Regions from separate parts of the Homo sapiens genome. Here regions 1, 2 and 4 are each reported to be linked to region 3. Evidence: microRNA targets listed by miRTarBase, many of them from high-throughput screens and not tested one by one. Region 3 holds a microRNA gene; each other region holds the end of a gene's coding sequence.

The links. Region 3 holds the annotated microRNA hsa-miR-106b-5p (UAAAGUGCUGACAGUGCAGAU, at 1,642-1,662, shown strand). A microRNA usually pairs through its seed, bases 2 to 8, with sites in the 3' UTR of a target mRNA and lowers its output. Matches are read on the target gene's strand: a 7mer-m8 pairs with bases 2 to 8, a 7mer-A1 pairs with bases 2 to 7 and ends in A, and an 8mer does both.
Region 1: miRTarBase lists CENPQ as a target of hsa-miR-106b-5p. Seed matches in the 3' UTR shown: 8mer at 838-845.
Region 2: the mRNA of GNPDA2 is a reported target of hsa-miR-106b-5p. Seed matches in the 3' UTR shown: 7mer-m8 at 4,496-4,502 and 7mer-m8 at 3,903-3,909.
Region 4: miRTarBase lists PLS1 as a target of hsa-miR-106b-5p. Seed matches in the 3' UTR shown: 7mer-A1 at 2,121-2,127 and 8mer at 2,423-2,430.

Annotation. Positions count from the first base shown.
Region 1 is chr6:49,491,560-49,496,622 of GRCh38, forward strand. It overlaps CENPQ (centromere protein Q), which reads left to right. Exons shown (of 9, transcript NM_018132.4): 9 at 585-1,548. The coding sequence ends at 716. Among named protein-coding and RNA genes, the nearest start is that of GLYATL3, 5.8 kb to the right of the region's middle.
Region 2 is chr4:44,698,543-44,703,605 of GRCh38, forward strand. GNPDA2 (glucosamine-6-phosphate deaminase 2) reads right to left here. Exons shown (of 7, transcript NM_138335.3): 7 at 3,253-4,600. The coding sequence ends at 4,539. It overlaps GUF1 (GTP binding elongation factor GUF1), which reads left to right. Exons shown (of 17, transcript NM_021927.3): 17 at 2-2,386. The coding sequence ends at 139. Among named protein-coding and RNA genes, the nearest start is that of GUF1, 23 kb to the left of the region's middle.
Region 3 is chr7:100,090,634-100,095,704 of GRCh38, reverse strand. MIR106B (microRNA 106b) reads left to right here and starts at 1,631; the gene lies at 1,631-1,712. It overlaps COPS6 (COP9 signalosome subunit 6), which reads right to left. Exons shown (of 10, transcript NM_006833.5): 5 at 5,051-5,071; 6 at 4,756-4,803; 7 at 4,553-4,667; 8 at 4,375-4,467; 9 at 4,185-4,285; 10 at 3,518-4,056. The coding sequence ends at 3,916. It overlaps MCM7 (minichromosome maintenance complex component 7), which reads left to right. Exons shown (of 15, transcript NM_005916.5): 12 at 235-318; 13 at 1,364-1,532; 14 at 2,304-2,413; 15 at 2,572-2,977. The coding sequence ends at 2,773. MIR25 (microRNA 25) reads left to right here and starts at 2,062; the gene lies at 2,062-2,145. It also overlaps MIR93. RefSeq lists enhancers at 1-204, 3,985-4,279.
Region 4 is chr3:142,711,181-142,716,243 of GRCh38, forward strand. It overlaps PLS1 (plastin 1), which reads left to right. Exons shown (of 16, transcript NM_001145319.2): 15 at 321-445; 16 at 692-2,484. The coding sequence ends at 827. Among named protein-coding and RNA genes, the nearest start is that of TRPC1, 10 kb to the right of the region's middle.

The DNA of each region.
Region 1 (5,063 bases), not on the chromosome of region 3:
CATTGTAGTATAAATGTTTGTAGCATTGGAAAGTCTTCATGTTTTCTCAAGAAGTAATTTGAAATTTTCCTATTGGCTGGGCACAGTGGCTCACACCTGTAATCCCAGCACTTTGGGAGGCCAAGGCAGGCGGATTGCCTGAGGTCAGGAGTTCGAGAACAGCCTGACCAACATGGAGAAACCCCATCTCTACTAAAAATACAAAATTAGCCAGGTGTGGTGGCACATGCCTGTAATCCCAGCTATTCGGGAGGCTGAGGCAGGAGAATTGCTTGAACCTGGGAGCTGGAGGTTGCAGTGAGCCAGGACTGCGCCATTGTACTCCAGCCTGGGCAAGAAGAGCAAAACTCCACCTCAAAAAAACAAAAACAAACAAACAAACAAATCCTATCATTTACCAGTGGTGAAAGGAGCAGGATGGGGAGAGGGAGAGATAGATTTGAAAGAAGAATGGCGATTCGTTGACAATTATTGAAGTTGGATGATAGATACTTAAGGTTTATTTTACTGTTCTCTCTAACATACATTTGAGATTTCTCATAATAAAATGTTAACAACTACATTTAATACTATCTTTCCCACAGAAAGAAATTTTGGCGCTAATTCCAAACCAGAATGCTCTTCTAAAGGACTTGGATATTCTTCATAATTCATCACAGATGAAGAGCATGTCAACCTTCATTGAAGAAGCCTATAAGAAACTGGATGCATCTTAAAGAGTGTTTTTTTTTTAGATTGTTCCATATTAATTTAATGTTCGTGAATTTGTAAAACTGTTAACCTATGATTATATGTACAGAGGCTAAGGCTTCTGCAGGATTTATTATCTCCTGATATGCACTTTAAAATTAGTCTTTGTAGTTCTATCATTAGCATCTAATGTAGTTCTGAAGACTGTTTTTAGCAGTTGCCAAATCTAGGAAACTAACATTTATATTGCTGTATCTATAAGTATTTGCCTAAAACCATAAAATAGGAATTGCCTTAAGGATCTAGTAGTTTATAATGCCTGAATGGAACTCATTTATTGGTTAACAGCTCATATCAGGAGCTGTGATAAGTAAGTGTTTACATACACTGTCTAGTGCATAAAAACCTTAGTGTTTGCTATCATTCATTCTGTAGCCAATGGCTTACAGTTTCTGTCTGGTCATCTGGAACTTGAAAAATCCTCAAATGCCTTCACTCTTTTACCTAACTCCCTAGTCTTTTTGGGAAGTAGTTAAGATATGCCTGCTATCTTTAACTTTGGAGGTAGTATCAAAATTTTACTTCTTTGGTTGTTTAGTGAATTAATGTTGAATATTTTCTACTGTCATCAAAACATATTCCCAAAAAGTATTAAAAAGGAACCTTAGCACATTTATTTTATTAAAACAAGAAAACCCAAAATATATAAACCTTTTCTTATTATGATAATAAGCTTATATATGTGAATAAGTTATAACCTAGTGTATAAAAAATTATTTCTAACAAACTACAGTATACTGTCTTGGGTTTTTTTTTTTTTTTTTAGTCTGTAAAATAAAATGACTGCAATTACTTTTTTATGTGACCTATAATATCAGTTAATTTGGGAGATGCCATAATTCTGTTAACACCCTTCAGGCAGAGACCACTGGCAACAAACCTGTAGTTAAACAAGTTGGGTTTTCAGTGTAGTGAGGAGATCACACATGAGGACCCTGGGGCAGCTCAAGAAAAGGGTCACAAGCAATATCCTCATAGGAATAATGGTAAAGAAGGCCTATTAATAGATTTTGGAGGAAAATAAAATCTCAAAGAAAAACCTGGCAAAGTGACTAAAAGTAAAGATTATTACAAAATGTCTTAAAAACCCTTCACTTGGAAACTTAAAGCTTCATGTTTTTAGAATGAGTAGTAGAGCCCTAACTCAGTGATTTTTAACACTAATGTTATAGTAGCTTTTGGTGGTGGGGGAGGAATTATGTATGCCATTTCTCTCAGGGCATCTGTTTAACAGATAACTGATAGTTAACTGGGATTTTAACTTACCATTGTTGCTGAGTGATACAGTTCTTCACCCTGTGTGAACTGGCCATACTACTCTTGTAGCTTTGAAGAGTTTATAATCTAACTTTAAGAGATCTACAATATCTTCTGGTAGGTAGCATCCAATCCAAAACATACACAGTATTTTCTTTAAATAAGACTGCATTTTGGTGTACTCTTTGGAAAGAATTTAAGAATTAATTACAGATCTGTTATGGTTTGCCTAGGGTTTATTTGGCCCCACCAACCTCATGTTGAAATTTGATCCCCAATATTGGAAGCGGGGCCTGGTGGGAGTTGTTTAGATCATGGCGTGGATCGCTCATGAATGGCGTGGTGCCATAGATGCTGGTGCCATGCTTCTTGTACAGCCTGCAGAAACATGAGCCAAATCTCTTCATTAATAAATTACCCAGCCTTAAATATTCCTTTATAGCAACACTAAACATACTAAGAAAATTGGTATTCAGGAGTGAGGCATTGCTCTAAAGATGCCTGAAAATGTGGGAGTAGCTTTTGAACTGGGTAATAGGCAGAGGTTGGAAGAGTTTGGAGGGTTCAGGAGAAAACAGGGAAGACAAGGGAAAGTGTAGAACTTCTTAGAGATTGGTTAAGTAGTTGTGTACCAAAATGCTTATAGAAAAAGAGACAGCAAAGGTCATACTGAGGAAGCCTTAGATGGAAATGATGAACTTATAAGTTACTGAAGCAAAAGTCACACTTGTTACACCGTAGCAAAGAACTTGTCTGCATTGTGTCCATGCTCTAGGGCTTTATGGAAGGCTTCATTTAAGAGATGGCCTAGGGTATCTGGGAAAAGAAATTTCTAACCAGCAAAGTGCTCAGGCTGCTGCATGGTTACTTCTAACTGCTTACAGTAGAGACCAGAGGAAAATTGGAAAATGTGCAGCCTTGCCTTGTGTTAGAGAAGGAAAGAAGAGTGTTTTTAGGAGAGGAATCTAAGAGTATGACCAAGCAGCAGCAATAGTTTGCTAAAGAGATGAGCATGACTAAAAAGGGCCAGGTGCTAATAAGACTATGGAAAAAATGTCTCAAAGCTATTTCAGAAATCTTTGCCACCCCTCCCATCACAGATTAAGAAGTTTAGAATGAAAGAATGGCTTTTTGATGGGGCAGGTGATACTGCTCCCCACACCCCAGCGGCACCAGCTCAAAGGGCCTCAGGCTGCTGCTCTGGAAGGTGTACCCAGTAAGCCTTGGAGACTTCCATGTGGTGTTAAGTCTGCAAGCATGCAGAATGCAAGAGTAGTGGAGACTTGGCAGCTTCCACTTACATTTGAGAGGATGTATTAGAAAGCCTGGGTGCCCAGAAAGAAGGCTGCCACAGGGTCTGAGAGCCTCTACTAGAGAAGTGCCTAGTGGAGCAGATGGAGCAGGGGCACCACTCTCCAACCTCAGAATGGTAGAGCCACCAACAGCTTACAATCTCAGCCTGGAAGAGCTGCAGGTATTGGATTCCAACCCACGAGAGCAGCTACGTGGGCTGCACCCAGCAAAGCCATGGGGATGGGGATGCCTGAGGCTCTGGAACCCACCCCTTGAACCAGTGTTCTTAGGATGCGGGACATGGAGTCAAAGCAGATTATTTTGGAGCTTTAATATTTAATATCTGTCCTGATAGGTTTGGGACTCACATGAGGCCTATTACCCCTTTCTTCTGGCCTATTCCTCCCTTTTGGAATGGGAATGTCTGCACCACCACTGTATCTTGGAAGTAAATAACTTCTTTTTTTATTTTACAGGTTCACAGTTGTAAGGAACTTGCCTTGAGTCTCAAATGAGACTTTAGACTTTTGAGTTGATGCTGGAACAAGTTAAGACTTTGGGGGATGGAATAATTGTATTTTGCAATGCAAGAAAGACATGAGATTTGTTTTTCATGCCACCAAATCTTATGTTGAAATTTGATGCCCAATATTGGAGGTGGGGCCAGATGGGAGAAATTTGGGAACAGATCCCCCATGAATGGCTTGGTGACATTCTCCCAGGAGTAAATAAGTTCTCTTGGTTCCCATGAGAACTGCTTGTTAAAAAGCCTAGCATCTCCCCATCTCTTTCTTGTTTTCTCTCTCACCACATGATCTGCAAATGCCAGCTCCCCTTCACATTCCACCATGAGTAGAAGCAGCCTGAGTCCCTGGCCAGAAGCAGATGCTGGCACCGTGCTTTTTGTGCAGCCTACAGAACGATGAGCCAAATAAATCTCTTTTGTTTATAAAATACCCAGCCTCAGGTATTCCTTTATGGCAACACTAAAGAGACCCAAGACAAGATCCAAATAAAATTAAACTGCCGGGCGCAGTGGCTCACACCTGTAATCTCAGCACTTTGGGAGGCTGAGGCGGGCAGATCACCTGAGGTCAGGAGTTCGAGACCAGCCTGGCCAACATGGTGAAACCCCGTCTCTACTAAAAATACCAAAATTAGCCGGGCGCAGTGGCGGGCTCCTCTAATCAGGAGGCTGAGGCAGGAGACTCGCGTGAACCCGGGAGGCAGAGATTGCAGTTAGCCCAGATAGTGACACTACACTCCAGCCTAGGTGACAGAGTGAGACTCCATCTCAAAAAAATAAAAATAAAGAAATAAATAAACTTTGACTATACATGGTCCCAATAATTCAAATAACAGTCCTCCTCTGTAGTGACCTCAGCCATCTAAGTTCTCCCATGCACAGCCCATGCCAACTATGATACATCTCTTCTCTAGTGACTGATAAATGCCAATGTCAGAAACTTAAACAATAACAAAAAAAATACACTTTTGAGATAGAGGATATATTGTATTAAAATGTAGCATATGATAAAGATGGCATTTCAAATGAAATACAGAAAAATATTTATTAATAAATGGTCTTCATAAAACTGGCTAACTACATAATGGAGGGTGAGAGGATGTTTAATATTCCTACTTTATGCCTAAGTACATTCCCACTAAATAAAGTTAAATATAAAAATAGAAGCTAAAAAGAAAGAAATGAACAGTGGATGTCAGGGTAGCAAATGCCCTATTATGCATATAAGCAAAAGTAA
Region 2 (5,063 bases), not on the chromosome of region 3:
GTATGGTGGTGATATTACCCGAAAAATGAAGCTTTTGAAGAGACAAGCAGAAGGGAAAAAAAAGCTGAGGAAAATTGGCAACGTTGAAGTTCCAAAAGATGCTTTTATAAAAGTTCTGAAAACACAATCTTCTAAATAATTGGTGGGAAAACAAAGAATTTTCATTGCAATTTGTAATATGCTGACAACAGAAAGAAAATTATAAAATTTGCTTGTTACTTTCAGGGTATTCAGGTTCAAATAACCTACTAGTCTTTCGTTGAAAGGGAGTAGTTAGTGGGTAGGCAAGAGCTTAGATTTTGAAGCCATGTTGCCTGTTCTCAAATATCTGTTCCAACCACTCACTAGTAAGGTGACCGTGGCCAGATTAACCTTTGTTTCCTCTTCAGTAAAATCGAGATTATACTACTACCTACATAAGTTGTTGTTGTGAAGATTAAATGAGGTAATACGTTAAATATTCAGAGGTGCAAGACACATAGTAAGCACTCAATTGTAACTACAGTTAAGTCCTTAAATGCCATCGAAAGGTTCTTAGAAACTGACTTTAAGCAAAATGACACGTAGCACAATGTTCTTGAATGATGTCATTTCCTTAAGTGGTTTGTAACATCGATGAGGAAAAAAAATTGGTTTATGCGTCATTTCATTTTATTTTTATTTATTTTTTGAGACAGAGTCTTGCCCTGTCGCCCAGGCTGGAGTGCAATGGCACAATCTCGACTCACTGCAACCTCTGCCTCCTGGGTTCAAGAGATTCTCCTGCCTCAGCCTCCATTACAGGCGTGCACCACCATGCTCGGCTAATTTTTTGTATCTTTAGTAGAGTCGGGGTTTCACCATGTTGGCCAGGCTGGTCTTGAACTCCTGACCTCGTGATCCACCCACCGTGGCCTCCCAAAGTGCTGATTACAGGTGTGAGCCACCATGCCCAGCCATGTCATTTCATTTAAAGTCACAATTTCCATGAATCTCAACAAGTGAGGACCTGCTATATTTTGTTGCATGCAGTTTTTCTTTACGGACACTAAAAGGCCCCATACTTAAGATTCCATCTACTTTAAGTTTAAAGGATTTTCAGAATCACCTTAAGTGTCAAATTTGTTAGCAGGATTAATTGATATGAATTCACTTATTAAACAGTAAACTCAAATAACATAGACATCAAATAACAGACATCTGCTCTAGTTAATGATAAAATGTTTATAGATTTTATCAGGTGGTTAGTTTGAAACTAAATGGTTTACATCTAAATTAAGGGCAGGAGCTGTCTTTCAGACATTCAAAACGCATTTGTGTAAAATGACAGGTGTTTGGTATTACCAGGAACTCATAATGACATTTTAATAATTATTGTCTAAATTTCATAATCGAAGCGATTTTAGAGTAGTTAACTTGAGATTTCACAGCCAGTAAATGGCTGTATTTCTCCAGAGCTCTCAGCTCCCATGTTTATTCAGCCAACGAACAAACCAGACTGCAGACTGTATTAGAGCAAGACAACATCATTTAGCCATTGATTTTTATCTTCTACCTTGAATGAATTGAATGAAGAAAATGTCTTTTAGGGATAAACACTATCAAGGATGAATTTTATACTAAGGTTATATGAAAGAAAAATCTCAAAACCACTAAGCCAAAGGGAAGTCAAGCTGGGAACTGATTGAGGCAAACCTGCCTCCCATTTTATTCCTAAATAAGACAGCCACAAAGATAAAATTTGCTCACAAGGGAATTCCTTATGGACAAAGAACTCAAAGTCTTCACATGAAACAAATGCATAAATGATTGCTTTCTCTGTTTCATGTTTCACTAAGCCAGATTAAGGTATAACTGACTATTCCTCTACTCTCCTCTCACATGTAAATTGTATATTCAGTGAAAGGCTAATCAGAAACTCAAAAAAATGCAACCCTTTCTCTCTTACCTGCCTATGCTTGAAGCCCCCGCCCCTCTTCAAGTTGTCCTGCCTTTCAAGACCAATGTACACCTTACACATACTGATTGATGTCTCATGTCTCTCTAAAATGTGTAAAACCAAGCTGTGCCCCAACCACCTTGGGCACATGTGGTGAGGACCTCCTGAGGCTGTGTCATGGGCACACCTTAACCCTGGGAAAATAAACTTTCTAAACTGACTTGAGAGCTGTCTCAGATATTTTGAGCTTACAGTTATTGTGAAATCATTTTAATTATAAATTAAGTGGAGATTTACTTAAAATCATGTGTAGAAGTAGCCTGTGATATAGTCCTAGATACATACATTATCATCTTATGTATCTTCCCTCCCTCTTCCAGGTTCTGATAAAAACAGATGAAATCTGAAAGACCATGACAGTAGTATTTTGAAAATGACAGTATTTGAAATTAAAAAATTGTAAAAGTGTTCTGTTCTATCACTGCCAAAGGATAAGTTACAAATTGGTTCTTGGAACGTAATATGTACTATGTGCTTGCTATTTAATAATTTACCAGTCTTAGTCTTTTTTATTCAGACTAATTTTACCTTTTTTTAACCTATGACTCTTTAGTTATAGTAGTACAAAAAAGTAGTTTTAGTTATAGTTTTAGTTGTAGTACAAAAAAGCATTTTCTGTAAGCTTAATTTCTTTCCCCTTCCCGCTTTCCCAGTCAGATGACTTTAGTGATTTGGAGTTGTGTGCTTTATAAGTGCATTCCTCAGAGGACTTAATATTACTAAGATTTTAGCAAACACTGAAATATGTTTAAACACTGTTATCAATATTAAAATAGCACCGTTTATTGACTTTAATATGTGACAACCACTGTGCTGAGCTATGTATGCTTCCCTTATTCAATCTATGTAAAAATTTTGGGGAAGTAGCTGAGACTTTTTTATTTCCCTGACAGAGCTGGGATTCAGTGGTTGGTTTCTTGAAAAAGCTAGGTTCTTTGCCTAACAGCAGCTTAGCTCCTCAATTTAGGGAATGAAAGCAGGAATGAAAATGGCCAGAGTTTTCGCTCCTCAGCTTGTGGAGGAGCTTGAGTACATGAACCTCAACTAAGCCCCTAACATCAAGGGAAGGAAAATGGAAAGGAGAATTTTTAGACCTTTAAAGCAGAGAAATTACTGGTGAATCATGTAGCACAACAGGTACCTTTAGCTTTTTCACTGTGATGCTGTATGACTTTCTAAGGTAGTCAGCATAGTTTGTAGTAAATGATTCTTATTACTGGAAGTGTAAGTGGAGTGTTACTCACTAGTTATTTAAAAAACATTTATAAGGCTATTAAAACATCATCTGGAATTAAAGCAGCATAATTTACCCCATCCCCCACTTTTAACCATAAAACCCTATTACCAATTTTATTTCATTAATTTATTTGCTATTTTAATATTTTAAGAAACTACATTTTAATCACATAGACAAGCAGATAAGTAAGGCTTCTTCTACCAGGTGGGCTTATGAAATGCAAAATAAGCAAAAGGAGCATTTTTTTGCTCCCCACAGAGGCAAAGACATCTTTTAACCTAACTCTCCTAATGCATGATGGTAACAAACCCAAAATGAATGCAGGTTCACATGTACTATAATTGTTGGGAGTCGAATGCATGTATTCTTCAGGTTCACTTCTGGAAATTTAGATAACTTATTTATTACACGCTTTATTTGAGTTAAAGATAAAAAACAATATACTTTTATGTAAATTGCTATGGCAATGTAGTTTACAGTAATTCCTTTTATATATACTTCGTATTATTCTTTTAGACATTTTATAAGGAATAAAGCTAATTGTATATTAAGTTTAACAATAATCAGAAAATATTCTCCAAAAGAATTTCCTGAAGTGGCTTGCTAGGTATAAAGCTCATAATTGTCAAGATACTTATATTAGGGACATGAACCCAAGTCGTTAAATAAAAATAAGATATTTGTAAAAAAGTGCTATAGAAGAAGGTGCACAAAAAACATGCACTTACACATACTTTCCAAAAGGATGTAAACTGTACTTTTAGGCACTGTCATCTCTTCAAATTTCCTTTACCAATGATATATAGCACAATTTTTGATGTCTAGATGGTGCTGTAGGAAGATGACTAAGGCAACCACGTGCAGAAAAGCATGTGTGTGATGCACAGAAAATATAAAGATTGCATTCCAAAAGTGAAGGTCTGCAATGATAGTTTGTTATCTGAAAGGTTTGGAGTGTCTTGTCATTAAAAAATGAAATATACGCCACTGGAGTCATATCACAAATGGTGCCTGATGTGGACACTCTACCTTTAAAATGACTTTTTAAACAGGCAGACATTTCTATGCTGTTTTATAGGTGGCTATGTGACTTCAGTACTTTATAATAAATAGCCAGTCAATCTTGAGAGCCAGCTACTTCTCTTAAACCCAAGTACAAGATATAAATATTCAAAATATGGAATGTTTAACATAGAGACTCGAATGAAAAAATGACAATCTTCAAAATTCCCCATGTTTTGTCATATTGCATAGCTGAAAATTCATCTACTACTTAGTAAAAAGTGCTCTGTTCATTCAAGCTGAATTTTGCTCCAGTCTCCTTCAGTTTCCATCTTTCATACTGAATAGTGGATCCACAAGTTTATTGTGCACATGCATTAGACCTTAAAGAAAAAAAGCACAGTTCTAGTTGTTTTTATTAATTTTGAACTATCTCATTTACTTTAGACAACAAAGTATTTTTTATAAGACACAGTAAGCCTGTTTAGTTCCCATCTTGATATAGTCAAGTTTATTGAAAAAGTACAAATAGAAATGTTTCAGAATGTCTTAAGTTTTATCTACCTAGCAAATACCAATTTATAATTATGTAACAGTGCAGATCTAGAATGTGTACAGGTACTTTGGGAGTAACCAGAAGAGCATTTCTTGTCTTCAAAGAGATTAAGCATGACAAATTTGAATACTGACTTAGATAATAGGTTTTAATTATATCTAAAAGTCTATGTTGATATTGATCCTCTGGCAGTTCCTCTACTAGACTCCAGCCAGGGGCTCAGAACTGCTGTCTCACTCTTAATACATTACCCTATCCATTCGTCTGGTAAATTACTTTCCAATAGTTTG
Region 3 (5,071 bases):
CAGAAAACAAATTCCACGCTCCTGGAAACCCCAGAGCCTCCCCTTTGCAGCAGGGGCTGGTCCATGGTTCTCAGGGAAATGGTGGGTTGGGGCTGAAATGCTGATGAGGATTTCCCGGGAAAGCTTGTCCCTCCTACACTGTGAGGAAGTGGCAGAGCCAAAGGAGGGACACCTAAGAGGACATGGGTGCGTAGCCCTAAAAAGGGTGTTCCTTCTAACCTTCCCTCTGTCCAGGTTGGCCCAGCACATCACCTATGTGCACCAGCACAGCCGGCAGCCCCCCTCCCAGTTTGAACCTCTGGACATGAAGCTCATGAGGTAGGAGAGCTGGGTGCGGGTGGGCAAACGTTGGCGTGGGCCGTGCGAGCCTCCTGAAAAAGTGCTTATTAGTCTTAGGGTGTGTGTTTTTCACACCACCACTTCCCGCTACAGACATGTCCAGAGCCTCAGATCAGCTTTTAAGTGGAAAATTCCACACTTCATATCATAGGGACACAGGAAATTTTGTTTCCTACACTATTTATTTTTTTTGAGACGAAGTCTTGCTCTGTCACCCAGGCTGGAGTGTAGTGATCTCAGCTCTCTGCAACCTCTGCCTCCCAGATTCAAGCGATTCTCCTGCCTCAGCCTCCTGAGTAGCTGGGATTACAGGCGCACGCCACCACGCCTGGTTAATTTTTTGTATTTTAGTAGAGAGCAGTTTCACCATGTTGGCCAGGATGCCCACCTCTGCCTCCCAAAGTGCTGGGATTACAGGCATGAACCACTGCTCCTGGCCCACAAAAATATTTTTAATAAAATTACCTTCAGGTTATGTGTATCAGTTGTATATGAAATACAGGTGAATTTCATGTTTAGACTGGAGTCCCATCCCCAAGCTATCTCATGCATATGCAAATACTCCAAAATTTAAAGTTTAAAACACCTGCTCCCAGGCATTCTGGATGATAATCTCTATCGCTATTTTCCCATGAGCCTCCAGTGTTCTTTCCGGTTTTTACTCCCTTTTAAATATTCTGTAAACAGTTCTCTTTAAATAAAATATATGTTTTGCCATGTCATGCGCTCAGAGGAGGGGTCTGGATCCTCTCTTAATGACAGACGGATTTGTCTTACAAAGGCCATTTTCCCGAAAAAAATAGGAAATAACTTGGAGGATACTGGTGGGGGCTATACGTTTGGTGAAATCCATCAGTGATATTCAAGCCAAGCAAATAATCACCCACTAATTTGTGTTTTCCACTTAAAATTCTTGGAGGGGACCATGTTAAATGGGGAGCCCTGGTACAGAAAACAACATGGGCTCATATTCACTCCCTTCCCCATCTCCCTCTTCTGCTTCCCCATGAACCTTCCCCCACAGGCGTTACATAGCCATGTGCCGCGAGAAGCAGCCCATGGTGCCAGAGTCTCTGGCTGACTACATCACAGCAGCATACGTGGAGATGAGGCGAGAGGCTTGGGCTAGTAAGGATGCCACCTATACTTCTGCCCGGACCCTGCTGGCTATCCTGCGCCTTTCCACTGCTCTGGTAAGTGCCCAAATTGCTGGAGGGCCATCTGTTTTGACCCTTAAAGGGGTAGCTCCTTACCGTGCTCTCATTGCCGCCTCCCCACCTCCCGCTCCAGCCCTGCCGGGGCTAAAGTGCTGACAGTGCAGATAGTGGTCCTCTCCGTGCTACCGCACTGTGGGTACTTGCTGCTCCAGCAGGGCACGCACAGCGTCCGTGGAGGGAAAGGCCTTTTCCCCACTTCTTAACCTTCACTGAGAGGGTGGTTGGGGTCTGTTTCACTCCATGTGTCCTAGATCCTGTGCTACAGACCTTCCTTTCTGTCCTCCCGTCTTGGACCTCAGTCCTGGGGGCTCCAAAGTGCTGTTCGTGCAGGTAGTGTGATTACCCAACCTACTGCTGAGCTAGCACTTCCCGAGCCCCCGGGACACGTTCTCTCTGCCAATTGTCTTCTTGGCTGAGCTCCCCAAGCTCCATCTGTCATGCTGGGGAGCCCAGTGGCGTTCAAAAGGGTCTGGTCTCCCTCACAGGACAGCTGAACTCCGGGACTGGCCAGTGTTGAGAGGCGGAGACTTGGGCAATTGCTGGACGCTGCCCTGGGCATTGCACTTGTCTCGGTCTGACAGTGCCGGCCCAACACTGCGGATGCTGGGGGGAGGGGGGATTCCACTCCTGTTTTGTGAGTAGGCGACCCATGGGCTGCCCAGCCTTAAAGCCAGAACAAGGGTGTCCCCTGACCTCGTTCCACTGCCCTCCTCCCGTTCCCATCTTTCCCCCCTACCTTCCCCTTAGGCACGTCTGAGAATGGTGGATGTGGTGGAGAAAGAAGATGTGAATGAAGCCATCAGGCTAATGGAGATGTCAAAGGACTCTCTTCTAGGAGACAAGGGGCAGACAGCTAGGTGAGTGGTTTAGTGAAGGACAAAGCTGTGTCACTTTGTCTTCTGTGGCCATGTGTCTGAGGTTGGCCTCAATTCTAACACTGGCCACCATTGTTCTCTGTTGATGTCGAGCATTCCTGTTTGTATCCTGACCTTACACACCCACTCATTTCCTTCAGGACTCAGAGACCAGCAGATGTGATATTTGCCACCGTCCGTGAACTGGTCTCAGGGGGCCGAAGTGTCCGGTTCTCTGAGGCAGAGCAGCGCTGTGTATCTCGTGGCTTCACACCCGCCCAGTTCCAGGCGGCTCTGGATGAATATGAGGAGCTCAATGTCTGGCAGGTCAATGCTTCCCGGACACGGATCACTTTTGTCTGATTCCAGCCTGCTTGCAACCCTGGGGTCCTCTTGTTCCCTGCTGGCCTGCCCCTTGGGAAGGGGCAGTGATGCCTTTGAGGGGAAGGAGGAGCCCCTCTTTCTCCCATGCTGCACTTACTCCTTTTGCTAATAAAAGTGTTTGTAGATTGTCATCTTCTAGCCTGGGCCTGACTTCCATTAAAACAGGGTTTTGTGCGTTTTTTAGATTCCTGTTCGTTTTTATGCTATTTCATCCACTCAGTAAATTACCTGAGTAAAGTGCATCTCCCTGCCAGGCCCCCAGTATAGACACTGGGGATGCGGCAAGGACTAAGCGGTCCCTGCTGTTTGGAGATACTTAAGATGGGGCTCCACTTTTTGAGCCCCCCGACTCCCTTATTTGGTCTTATACTGCCTGTGTGCAAGTCAGGCTCTGGGGATATGGCGCCAGTATGAAATGCAGGGTCTCTTGGTTTTTCCCCTTTTCTAGCAGACAGGTCATTACTTAGTTCCCAACTCCCACTCTAAAGCTCTGGTTAGCGGGTGATGAAAATCAGCACAAGTGATCACATACAGCAATCCCAACCTTTAGACCACTTCCTAGCTGCCTCTCCAAAATATGTAGTAAACGGTCATTGAGAAACTCTCCCTCCTGGTAATTCACAGTGCCCACAGGATCAAGGCTTGGACTTCTTTCTAATAAAAATCTGCTTACTATCCCTTCTTTTTTGCGTATGTGAAAAACAAGTTAATTTAGCTCAGGAAAGTAGTCAATTATCATGTTTATAAGGTTGGGTGGGCTAGGTAAGATGATGTAGAGGGTGACATTAAAGTGTAGAACAGAGACCACTTAGGTGGAAGCAGGCAGCCTTGGACTTTGCTAAAGACCAGTCCATGTGACTGACATGGGGTCACTTCAAATGGTAGTGCCTCCCTCACTGAAGAGCATCAGAAGGGCTTCTGAGCAAGGCCAGAATGAGCCTCGATGAACATCCAAGTTGACCAACCAGTGTGGTGCCTAACAGAGGACAGAGCCACCAGCAGGGGTGCTCAGGGGCTGCTCCCCTTTTATTAATGACAGCGGTTTCTCTCAAGGAAGTGTAGTGCCCTCCCCTTTGGGATAGTTGCCTGACCCCTGTCCATCAGCCCTTCAAGTACCCTCATCAGAAAAAGAGCCCGCGCATTCTCCTGCCGATGCCTTGTCGGTCGTAGAGGACATTGAACTTGTTCACAAACTGGTTCATGGTGTTGCACGTTTTGGTGATGGTGCCGAGGTAGGCCATGAGCCCCACGTCGTTGCATTGCTGGGAGGGAACAGAAAGGACCAGTTCCTCGGGATCCCTCGTGGCATGCCCGGGGAACAACAGTCCCCAGTCCTGCACGTGAAAGTGACAGCATAAGCCCCGCCTCCCCATCCGGGTTTTACACTCACATCATAAAAATCTGTCTTGAACTTGTCTGTGCTGAGCACCGGGAGACAGTGACACAGAGCATAGGCCTCCCGCAGGATCTCATGATTAAAGGGGACCTCTCCTAAAGGCACAAAAAGAGACTACATTAGTTTGGATGCTGTCACTTCCCCAGGAGGGAGAGGAAGAATGCCAGGGAAGCCCCTGTCCTACCCGCTTCAGAGGCCTTGACGTACTCCAAGATGAGCTTGACGCGGCTGTGCAGCATCTTGATGGCGCTGTGCTGTGCTATCAGGTGTTCAGCCACTGCAAGGGGATGAGGACAGGAGGAGGTTGAGACGGGATGTGGCCACACCTTCCAACCCCACTTCCAAGGAATCCCCTCCATTACCAGTGGAGTTCTCTCCACTGCCTGTTGCTGTCATTCGGGCTACGTGGTCTACACCAATGCGTTCCGCTTCCTCTGTGGCCAGAGTGTAGGTCAGCTCAGCAAACAGCATTGTGGCCTACAGGGCAAGGTAACCCACAAAGGGAGAATCAAAAGCAGGAAAGAGGCCAAGAGCAGGATCTGAGGGTTGAAGGGTAGGGTATTACCTCTCCATTGATTATATCAATGACAGACTCAAAAACGCTGACAGGAAGCTGTGAAGGAGACGGAGAAACCTGAACACTATATGCCAACATTTGGGCTAGCTGCTTTTACACATTTCCTCTCATCTTCCCAAGAAACCAATGAAGTAGGGATTACCTCCTTTCACAGTTTGGAGATTAAATGACTAAGCCAGAGTCACAGCTGGTAAGTGGCATCTGGCATTCCCCAATAGAGGAGTGTCACACAGTAAAAGGTATAGCGACAATCATGACAGAGTAGGCATGGAGTATTACTCACATCTGTGTGCTTGGTCATAGG
Region 4 (5,063 bases), not on the chromosome of region 3:
TGTTAATTAAAAATTCATCTATTCCCTTTCAAAAGTTTTGTATTTTTTACAGAATGGACACTATAGTTAGCATACTTAGGAGCTATCATGTCCACAAACCTTATTCAGATATGGTGACAACTCTATATTATATATAAAGATTCAAGGAAAAGTATATTTTAAAGGGTTTATTTATGTGTGCTGGTTGCAGAAAAGCTGAACGTTAGGTTAAGTACAAAGAATTTGTAGATTGCCTTCAGTTATATGATCAGAAGAGTCTGAAAATAATGAAAATTAAAGGTCAGATGTTTATGAATGTTCATCTATGCTTTATTTTCTAGGATAAATCTATAAGCACAAGTTTACCTGTCCTAGATTTAATAGATGCCATTGCACCAAATGCAGTTCGTCAAGAAATGATCAGGAGAGAAAACTTATCTGATGAGGACAAGCTGAACAATGCTAAGTAAGCCTTTATGGTTTATATTACAATACATGGCCCTTTAATTCTCTAAAATCCTTATAGGAAAAGTTACTATGCCCTTAAAATTCATATTTTTAAATATAACTTATATGTGAGTCTTAGATTTAAGACTCACAAACTTAACCTTTTCGTAAAACTAATCTTGTCAAAATATTTCACTCTTTTGTTAAAATATGTTAAGTGAAAACACAGTGGATAACACCAAGATATTTTTCTTGTCTCTTCAAGATACGCCATTTCAGTTGCTCGAAAGATCGGTGCCCGGATATATGCATTACCTGATGACCTCGTAGAAGTGAAACCAAAGATGGTTATGACGGTGTTTGCATGCTTAATGGGAAAAGGACTGAACAGAATAAAATAATCATTTCATATGATTTTCTGCCACATTAAACATATTGTATGCCTCACAGTTTACAGGATTCTGAAATGTAGTGGGTGTAAAACCAGAGATTATTTGTATGCTCAAAATAGTTATATATTCATTAATGAATTCAATATCCTGTTCATACTAGTTAGAGCTGGTCAGCCTTTTTGGGTAACACAGTTAATTTACCAACTGATACAGATAATAGAATATATTCATAATCAAGCTGATACTTCATGATTAAATTATTTTTGTTGCTTAAAAGTCGTATTAGACAAGACTAAATCATTCTTTTTTATGGTTCAAAAAAGATGAATACAAACGTTTTTGCAGGTTCTGCTGTGAAATGTGGTTTGATTTTTTTGGTGTGTTAATTTTGATCATAAATGCATTCATACTCATAATCCAGTTTAATCCTTTTATTTGCTTCCTCCAACTATTTAAAGTGGTCCAAAAACACTTTTCTGTAAGTTTCTATACTGTCTAAAACCTTATGGTGACCAGAATTGTTTATTAATATCAAACTTTTTTATATATGAGAACTAATTCTTGAATAAACCCCAAAGTTCACTCTCTTGTTTAAGTAGCAGCAGCTTTTTACTTAAAATTTAATTTTAACTACATTGATACTTTACACATCCTAGTTTGGTAACACAGCTTTAACTATGTCATGCAACATATATATGTTGGTAGGATGTTATTAGAGAGATATGTGTGCATATATATTTTTTTGCACCTGAATCACCCAGCTTTTCATAAGTGGTATGTTTAATTGGTCATTCAGCCAACCATCAGTATTTTCCCCCCACAACATGTGTAACACTTTTCAGTCTGTGGATATCTGATACATTAAGATTTCTTTTTATAAGTATTCATTTTGAATGTGCATATAGTTATTTGACCCCTTCCAAATACTTGTAGCCAAACATTGGCTAGAACATCCCAAGATATGCTGACACTGTCCTGTTAGCTTCATATTATACTTGCTAGTTTAGGTCTCTATAGAAGCCCTATATAATTTAGAATATGCCCACTGAATATCTTTAATAGAAAGTAACATAAAGCTAGTATTCAATGTAGAGTATTTTCATATGTTTTTCACAGCCCGTTACAAATTGGCAATGTTTGGTTAATGTTTGTATTACTTGGAAATCGCTACAGCTTGGACTATTTTTTTCTAAATTTTTAGCATTAGTCCATTTCTGCTGCTAACAATTGAATCCAGAAATCTACTTTCTCCATCTTCCACTGTTAGTGCCAGTGAGCAATACTGTTGTGCAACAAAAATGTCACTTTATCTCAGTGTGAATGAGTAGTCTAAATTCCCTTTCTACCATTGATTTAAATATATATATTGGTAAGAGAGACTGCCCATGTGTTTAGAATAGAATTTTTTAAATGAAATGATCAACAGGTGGAATTTGAAATATATTCTTCTACAAAAGAGATTTCTTTCCCTTTTATATTTTGATGATTGTTTTCTTAAGATTAAGATATGTTCTTGCTCTTTTATAAGATTATTTAAATTATGTTTCCCTCTGATTTTTTTTCACCATTGTATTTACTAAGTTATTGGATTTACATGAAATCTGGCACTTTAGGGTGTTCTTTTTCTCACAGAGTATATTTAATAAAAATGCTGTGTATATAGAAATGTGTTTATATTTATTTCATTTGAAGAAAAATATTCAGCCTTGAAAATTAGTCTAGCATAAGCTTATTTTCCAGAAAAGAAAAGAATTCCTAAATGAGTTAGTAAAACAAAAAAAAAATTGTGTCTGATTTCTTTGAAGATGAGGGTAGTTCTTTTGTTCTTAAATATGAAGAATTATTAAAAACCAACTGTGTGATTACTACAATTTAGTTTGTGCTGAAATAATTCAGGTGAATCAATCCATTCACAAATTTATCATTTATTATGATCCAGATACTATGCTAGACACTGGGGATTCATCTGAAAAAAATACAGATGAAGTCTCCTGACCTCATGTATCACATCCATGTATGATATCCTAGTAGAGAGACAATTCGTAAATAGGAATTTTAGACAGTGATAATGCAGTAGAAGAAATAACATAAGGTAATGTGATAGAGACTGACTTGGGAAATGGAGTGGAGATTATTTGTATTTGGGTGGTCAGGGAAGGTCTCTCTAAGGATATTTGTGCTATAAGTGTTCAGCAGAGAGAACAAATGTAAAGAACCTGAAGCAGGCAGTCCTGTAGGCATCCTAGAAGACAAACAGGTGAACATGACCTGAGAGTACTGAGGGAGAGGCAGAGTCTGGAGATGGAGATGGAGTCTAGGGTATTGTAGGACTAGATCTAAATCTGGATTTTTTTTTTTCTTCTCTGACTGGAGTCATGACTGCTCTTTTGTATATGTGGTTTGGGTAAGCTGCTTGAAGTAATATGCTGCTTCTGAATCTTGGATGCTACTGTTCATCATAACTCTGCCACTGGTCTCTGTATCACCTGTGTAGAAAAAACTGATGATAGGCTGCATAGATTATGTTAAAATACCCCAATTTATGCTGGATAAATAGTGTACCAGGCCAGGCACAGTAGCTCATGCCTATAATCTCAGCACTTCGGGAGGCCAAGGTGGGAGGACTGCTTGAGGCCAGGAGTTTGAGACCAACCTGGGCAACATAGACTCTTGCTACAAAATTTTATTTATTTATTGAGACGGAGTCTCTCTCTCTTGTCCAGGCTGGAGTGCAGTGGCACAATCTCGGCTCACTGCAACCTCTGCCTCCTGGGTTCAAGTGATTCTTGTGCCTCATCCTCCTGAGTAGCTGGGATTACAGATGTGTGTCACCATGCCTGGCTAATTTTTTTTTGTGTTTTTAGTAGAGACAGGGTTTCACCATGTTGGCCAGGCTGGTCTTGAACTCCTGACCTCAAGTGGTCTGCCCGCCTCGGCCTCCCAAGGTGCTAGGATTACAGGCATGAGCCACTGGGCCCAGTCCTCAATTTTTTTTTTTAATTAGATGGGTGTGGTGGTGTGCACCTGTAGTCCTAGCTACTCAGGAGGCTGAGGTGGGAGGATTGTTTGAGCCTGGGATTTCGACACTATGATGAGCTATGATTGCACCATTGCACTCCAGCCTGGGTGACACAGCAAGATGCTGTCTCTTAAAAACAACAAAAAGTGTATCAGAGAGGTAAGAGAGGATTTCTGCAGCTGAGATGATCCAAAAAGACTTGTGAAGAACAGGGTGCAGTTGCAACACTGGCTTAGTTTGAAGTAGGAACAGCACCCCCACCCCCAGCACTTTGAAAGGCCTCCTAGAATTATCTACCAAAGTAAGTTGGGATTCCCCAGTCTTAGAAATTAATCCAGCCCCTATGGGAGTCCTCTGGATAAAGAATCATCTAGGTCCAGCAACTTGCAAATGCCTCGGATTAAAGTGAAGCTATATCTACATCGCGCTCTATCTCGCTTGCTCTCCTGCTATATCACATGTGCGACATAGTTCTGAGCCATCTAAATTTTTTCCCTCAAACACGAAGTTTTGGGTACATCAGGGTTAGTGTTTTTCTGCTACTAACTAAAAATTGTGCTGCACTACAGAGAGTGTAAGCACACACGCATAAATACAAATATGTGCCACTGTTCACTGGCCACAAATTTACAGGAACAATCTTGACATTCCACCAAATAAACTTGGAACTGTATTAAACATTACAAAATGAGGAAGATTTACCATCTACTAGGGATAAGACAGAAAACAAACTCAATAGATTATCAACTGTTTTGAAGTAAATACATGAAAATGTTTGGAAAGACGGTCTGCTAAGGCCTCTTAGAAAAGACCTAACAAAGACTTTGAATTATGAGAAAGTTGTATTTAGGAAATTTTGGGAGTTAACGTGCTGGCTGAGACAGGGATGGAACATACCAGCCTGAACAGGATAGGGAGTATTTCCTCCAAATATAAGATACTCTGAAGTAAATTTATGTATTCTTTTAAAAACCTAAAACTTTAAAGGCACAATTTAGAGTTTTCTATATGATTATGGGAAGCAACAGGAATTATTCAAGAGGCGGAATTTCCAGTTTCTCCTCCATTACCTTTTAAAAGCAGAAGACAACAGCAACTCTATAATGGTTATAATACTTTAAAAGTTTGGTTAAAAATAAATTATTTGGCAGGGTATGATGACTCATGCCTGTAATTCCAGCACTTTGGGAGGCCAAGGTGGGCGGTGGCACTTGAACCTAGGAGTT